Linked DNA regions of Homo sapiens. The protein of the gene in region 1 purifies or fractionates together with the protein of each later gene. This does not show direct contact. Each region holds a gene or a part of one and is shown on either strand. Other genes may lie near its edges.

Region 1 (3,500 bases):
CGTCAGGTTATCCCTGTATCTCTGAAACCACTTCTAATCTGGTTCCTCCTTATATTGTCTGAGCTCCCTCTAGAGCACTCCGGCTCAGTCCAGTGGCCCTTGTAGAATCTGGGCTGAGGTTTCTCCAGAGACTCTTGAATGGTCTCATGGATTTTGATCATGTCATTTGGGGGGACCTTTGGGTCCCTGACCCTTGGTTGTTTGTGTGCCTTAATGTATTTGGGCACTTTTCTAGGTGTCCCAGGCTGGGGCTCTTAGGGGTGAGGAGAGGAATTCTTTTTGTATTATGGATAGTGTAACTGTGATTTTTTTTTTGTTTGTGTTTAATGGGAAATGGATTATTGCCTCTACCTAAAACTTCTCACCTTGTCCAGAAAGGGTCCCAATGTAGGCATGTGTGCCTCAAGATGTAAACTGAAATGAGTAGATGTGGGGAAGGGAGAGGGGAGCAGAGCAGCTGAGGAAAACTGCTAGCAAGAACCACTGACCTTCATTTCATAAGTAATTCAAGAAATCCTTGCCTTTCATAGACACACTGCGATCCTGGCTATCTCTTGCGGTCCTCCAAAGATATACAGAAATAGAAAATTTTTCTATTTTTAATTTTTCAGAATTGGGTTATAAGTGATGGGTTCTCAATTTTGGAGAATGAGGCCTACAAAGGGTTATCTTTGTGTCTTGTGTGGTCCTTGGTGTTTGCCACCCTGTGTTCTAGGCCAGGCTTGCTGATGTAGGTCCTTGAGCAAGTCACCGAACGTTTCTGAGCCTCAGTTCTCTCCCTTGTAAATCGCAGAGGTAGAAAGGAGTTGGACTTGCTGATTTTTGCAGCCCTTCTAGGTCTGGCCACCTGGGCTTCAGATTACTATAAGCCTTTGGAATTTGAATATGTTGATGAAGTGGGCTCAGTGGGTAAAGAATGTTTGAATAAAGGGATACACGGCATATGTCCTCTAGGTACTGGGTGCTTTATACGGGTTTTAATTTATTTCATCATCCGAGCTGCGCTGGTAGTGGGTAAAATTAACCCCACTCTGCAGATGTGCAAATCAAGGCTAAAGGAGGTTGAGTGACTTGTCCAAGATGATCCACTTGCTCAGTGGCAGGGCTGGTATTTAGAGCTGTGCAGGCAGATGTACTGAGGGAGGGATCCATGGCAGGATAATGGTGGGGCTGGAGCAGGAATCTTTTGTCTGCCTTTGTTTCCTTGCATGCTGTTTCTGTACTAGAAGTCATGTGCTGGTTTTGAGATAAACTAGCTCAGCCAGGTCACTGTAGCTTATCCACTCACTGTCTGGGACCACAGAAGATTGGAGGACCCTGGTTCTGAAAGGGATCTTACAGTTCTTTGGATCAAGCTCCTCAATTTGTTTTGCTTTGTTTTGTTTTTTTTTTTTTTTTTTTTGAAACAGTCTCGCTCTGTCACCCAGGCTGGAGTGCGGTGGCATGATCTCAGCTCACTGCAACCTCCACCTCCCAGGCTCAGAGATTCTCATGTCTCAGCCTCCCGAGTAGCTGGGACTACTGACGTGCACCACCACGCCCGGCTAATTTTTTGTATTTTTAGTAGAGATGGGGTTTCAATATGTTGGCCAGGCTGGTCTTGAACTCCTGACCTCAAGTGATCCACCTGCCTCAGCCTCCCAAACTGCTGGGGTTACAGGTGTGAGCCACTGTGCCTGGCCAAGCCCCTCAATTTGTAGCTGAGAAAATGGAGGTCCACAGAAGTTAGGGGATTTGTTTCATGTCACTTGATGAGTTGACAGATGGGAAGAAATGGACACAAAGACTCCCTGTCTTAGGTGTTTGGAGTTGTATTTTTATAACTTTTTTTTTTAAGAAAAAATAAAACAACAACACTCATTCATTTGAGACACATGGGGTGAGTGAGTTGCATTTAGTTATTCTCACCTCCAGGCCCCTTTCCAGTGCCAAAAGATTGGAGTAGGCTTATGGAAAACCTCCTCTGCTTGGCTTTGTGGCTGGTGTCTGAGACACAGAGGGCAACAGGCAAGCTGAGTATGAGACCTGGTCACTTTCCTTGAGCAGGCTCAGGCTGTGTTTCCTGGGGTCTTCTAGCTCACAGGTTAGCAGTCCTTCCCAATGGATGGGCTGAGACCCTGACCCTTTCCTCCTGCGTGCGGCTGGCACCGAATCTGTGCCACTGTAAGAGTAGTTGCCACATGCCGTGTGGTTTTTGTTCTTTGTCTTCCCGACTAAGAGGCATGCTTCCAGAGCGTAGCTCCCAAAATATTGAATTTAATTAATTGGTGGAGCTGCCTAATGGGGAGGCGGGTATCAATAGCTTGGACGAGCACCCAGAATAAAAACCATCCCGTGGTTATTAAAAAGCACAGTGCAGATACTTGACCCTTTTCATGATCACTATAGCATTAAGAAAGTCTCACCCAAATAACAGGCTTCAGAAATTCAAATTATTATCATAGGAAAGAGGAGTTATAATTATTCTGCAGGGCTGGAGGGCAAAGCTAGCTGCAGCAGTGGAATTTGGAGAAAAGCCGATAGCAGATAGAGGAAGAACGTGCTGGTAGTGGAGTTGTCCAGCAGGGGGAGCCCACCTTCCAAGGCCCTGTCATCATTGAAGCCCTGGCAAGGAGTGGAACTTGGCAATCTGTAACTTCCTTTCTAGAGCTAACATTTCTTGATTATCTATCAAGCGGGAGTAAATTAGAGGAAGCTAAGGGTACAGCAACACTGTGTCTTACTCATTTTTTAGGCTCTAAACCCATTGTATGGTGTGAAAATCATGTGTAGCCAAAAATACCCTAAATATATTTTAATGGTCAGAAAGTTGCATTATACATGGTTTTTGTGTATGAAACCCTGAATAGTAATTCCCTGTGCTATCCAGTGTGCAAAACTCTGGCCTACAGCAAAAGAAGTAGAAAAAGAAGGTCAAAAAAGAAGTTGTCTGCATCTTCATGCTGCTCTGTTTTTAAGGTAACTGTCAAATCTCTAGGGCATGGGGTGAAGGAGAGGGAATTCTTAGGAGTATGTATTTGCTTGCAAGGTTTCCGTCATTCAGTTTGGATAAACAGCCTCTAATACCTTCATACATGTTGTTTCAGTCCATTTTGCATTGCCATTAAGGAATACCTGAGACTGGGTAATTTATAAAGAAAAGAGGTTTATTTGGCTCAAGGTTCTGCAGGCTGTACAAGCATGGCACCAGCATCTGCTCAGCTTCTGGTGAGGCCTCAGGAAGCTTTAACTCATGGCAGAAGGCGAAGGGGTAACAGGCATATCACATGGTGAGAGAGAGAGCAACAGAGAGAGGAGTACGTGCCAGGCTCCTATTAACAACCAACTCTTGTGTGAACTAATAGGGCAAGAACTCACTCATCACCAAGGGGAGGACACCAAGCCATTCATGAGGGATCCACCCCCATCACCAAAACACCTCCCAGCAGGCCCCACCTTCAATACTGGGGATCACATTTCAAAAATATTTTTGAGGGTATTTTTAGCTACACATGATTTTC
Region 2 (3,500 bases), on another chromosome or scaffold:
GTTTAGAACACAGTTTCTTATTTGGAGTCTGCCTATACCTTATATCTTGACATGATATAATTGTAAGTAAAATGCTATACTTTTTAAGCTAGGGTATTTGGAATTGGGCAGTCCCAGTTAAGTCACTTCTTTAAGGCTGTATCATCACCTGAAAAATGGACTGATTATAAAGATCAAATACATATGAAAGCAGTTTTGAAACTAAACAGCTATAGAAATGATGTTATATTCAACTGAGCATTCATTCTGTGCAAGCAGTGGTGTTTGGCGGCTGCATATATACTTGTAGAGGTGCTACCTAATCTCACCCTTTGTGGAAACAAGTGCTATTTCTCCTGAAATCATGCTTGGTGGAAAGTTCTGTTAGACAGCTGGTAGAGTACATTTTCTTAAATATTTGCAGGACATAGCCATGTGTTAGTTGTTCATGTTAAGAGTAGCCTGTGCCACTGTTTCCTAGACAGATTTATAAATACTCTGATTTCTTTGTTCTTGTCTTATCCCACCAGGAGGTGAAACAGCAGAAATGCCTGACATGTATCCCCCTGGAGAGTATGACCTAGCTGGGTTTGCCGTTGGTGCCATGGAGCGAGATCAGAAACTCCCTCACCTGGAAAGAATCACTGAGGGTGATGTTGTTGTTGGAATAGCTTCATCTGGTCTTCATAGCAATGGATTTAGCCTTGTGAGGAAAATCGTGGCAAAATCTTCCCTCCAGTACTCCTCTCCAGCACCTGATGGTTGTGGTGACCAGACTTTAGGTAAACTCCCTCATGTTTAAACTGTCCTGCTTGGAAATGCCTGAGCAAGCATTTAGTGGTTTTAGTCTCTGATTACTTAGAGCTAAAAGGGAATGAATTACCTTGGTTTGCTACTTGGTCATTATTGTAGAGCTGGTGTCATTCTCCAGGTTGATTTTTATGTTTTGGTTTTCTATTCATAGGCTAAGTTTTTGTCTTCTCTCTTCAACATGCAGGGGACTTACTTCTCACGCCTACCAGAATCTACAGCCATTCACTGTTACCTGTCCTACGTTCAGGACATGTCAAAGCCTTTGCCCATATTACTGGTGGAGGATTACTAGAGAACATCCCCAGAGTCCTCCCTGAGAAACTTGGGGTAGATTTAGGTAAGATCACTAAAACGAACTTCTGTTCAGAAAATTGCTGAGGAAAAAAATGCATTGTGCGAGAAAACTATGGGTAGTTAATGTACACATGATTACACATGGAAAATTCTTAATCATTGGGGGTTTTGGGAGGGAAAAACTCGACCCTTTTCTATCTCTTTTTGCTTCATTATCTGTATTTATAAGACATAAAATATTGTCATGTAATTGGCTTACATAAAGTTGAAGTACTCGATAAGTAGGTCCTCCAAGGGGATTGGTAACTTCAAGCTCTATTAAGATGGAGCCCTACACACCAGGAAAGGAAATGTTAGCTATTAAGTAATCCATATTCGAGATAAAAGGACCTAAACCAAGGCATAGAGAAGGGAGGCACATTGGAGAATCATTTTATGCTTAGAAGTAAAAAGAAGTCTCAGGTTTCTAGTTAAGCAGGTGAGTAGGCGGTAACATCATTAACATAGGAAGAAGAGTAAGTTTGGAATAGAAGGTTTTTAAATCTTCAGTGTGTTTATTCCAAGGTGACTGTGAGCAGAAGTTGAAGTCATGCTGAAGATAAATTGGGTGATTATTTGCACGTAGTAATAGTTATAGCCAAGAGAATGAGGGAGACCAAAAGGTTGTTTCTCAAAGTAGAGTGACTGAAAAGAACAGTCCAAAGTAGTGGGTAAACCATGTAAAAGTATTATCATCAAACCAACATGGGATTTTTTTCTTTTCTTTTTTTTTTTTTTTTTTTTTTAGACAGAGTCTCACTCTGTAGCCCAGGCTGGAGTATAGTGGCGCAATCTCAGCTCACTGCAAACTCTGCCTCCTGGGTTCAAGCGATTATCCTGCCTCAGCCTCCCAAGTAGCTAGGATTACAGGCACCCGCCACCATGCCCGGCTAATTTTTGTATTTTTAGTAGAGACAGGGTTTCACCTTGTTGGCCAGGCTGGTTTCGAATTCCTGACCTCAAGTGATCCGCCCGCCTCAGCCTCCCAAAGTACTGGGATTACAGGCATGAGCCACCGCGCCCGGCCCCAAGGTAGGATTTTAACGTGACACTGGTCCGCAGTGTCAGGTACAGCACAAAGATCTAGAATAAGCACTAGAAAAAGACCAGTGTATTTTAGAGTTAGGTCAAAAGTCAGTTTGCTGGACATAGATACCACCCACTAGATTGTTGTGGCAGAGTTGTGGAGACAGTGGGTAGAGATTTCTGTTTGAAGAAACATACTGGTAAAAGGGAAGTGGAATAATTTTATGCATGCAGCAAAAGTGAGGGACAGAGTCCTCCCTCCCTGTGTTCTTTTTTGTTTTTTGTTTTTCGTTTTTTTTTTTTTTTTTTTTTTTGAGTTGGAGTCTTGCTCTGTCGCCAGGCTGGAGTCGCCAGACTGGAGTGCAGTGGCGCAATCGCAGCTCACTGCAACCTCCGCCTCCTGGATTCAACTGATTCTCCTGCCTCAGCCTCCCAAGTAGCTGGGACTACAGGTGCCCGCCACCATGCCCGGCTAATTTTTGTATTTTTAGTAGACACGGGGTTTCACCGTGTTGGCCAGGATGGTCTCAATCTCTTGACCTCATGATCCACCCGCCTTGGCCTCCCAAAGTGCTGGGATTACAGGCATGAGCCACTGTGCCCAGCCCCTCCCTTCCTTGTTTTTGTAAAATAAAGTCAGAGAAACTTTTCCAGCTATAGTCAACTAATACACATTGATTTGAAGGAGTAGAAACTGAGGGAGTTTACATAAAATAACTTCTCTGTGAAGTATTAGTGAGATGATCAGGCCTGGGGTGGGAGCTTGAAGAGAGGAGTGGATAAAGCAGTCAAGGTCAAACAGGAGTGAGACAGTGAGCAGGACTGAAGGCACAGGTGAAGGTGAAGCTGCTCATGTAGTTTTTCTCCCAGAGCAAAAGCATGTATATAGCTTTGAAGCAAGAACAGAAAAAAAATAGATTAGTTAGGTTGATCCAGCTGAACTAAGCAGGTATTGGGGTCATTCATTGGGGAGAAGCAGTCAGAGTGATAGAGGTGAGTAGATATGGTGAGCTAACCCAAGAGTCAGAGCGTATGTGAAGCTCGGAGAGAACTGAAGAGTCAGAGGTAGGTTGTGTGGAAGTGAGGAAATCGGCAAGGGAAGCTGGGAGAGTGGTCAGATGGGATTTCAGCCTAGTCAGGGAAGCAAAACAGACAGGCCAGGCTAGGCTGAGTGGGAGTCTCTTCCAGGTCCATGGACTGAGCATATTAAGGAGTTGAAGGATTCATAGGAGGGTGAAACTAGTGGTTCAAGACATTCCTTGGGTAGAAATGCTTTCTGGTGAGCATATATAAGAACCTTAATAAGTAGTTCATTCATCATCCTTTTCAAATAGTTAAAAAACAGTGGC

The links. The genes of interacting proteins can lie anywhere in the genome.
Region 2: the proteins of SYN3 (region 1) and GART purify together in Homo sapiens (co-immunoprecipitation; one large-scale study listed by IntAct). This does not show direct contact.

Annotation. Positions count from the first base shown.
Region 1 is NC_000022.11:33,048,382-33,051,881, reverse strand, and holds part of SYN3 (synapsin-3), read left to right. Parts: intron 1-3,500. UniProt on the Homo sapiens protein: May be involved in the regulation of neurotransmitter release and synaptogenesis.
Region 2 is NC_000021.9:33,514,618-33,518,117, reverse strand, and holds part of GART (trifunctional purine biosynthetic protein adenosine-3), read left to right. Parts: intron 1-509; coding exon 510-761; intron 762-976; coding exon 977-1,129; intron 1,130-3,500. UniProt on the Homo sapiens protein: Trifunctional enzyme that catalyzes three distinct reactions as part of the 'de novo' inosine monophosphate biosynthetic pathway.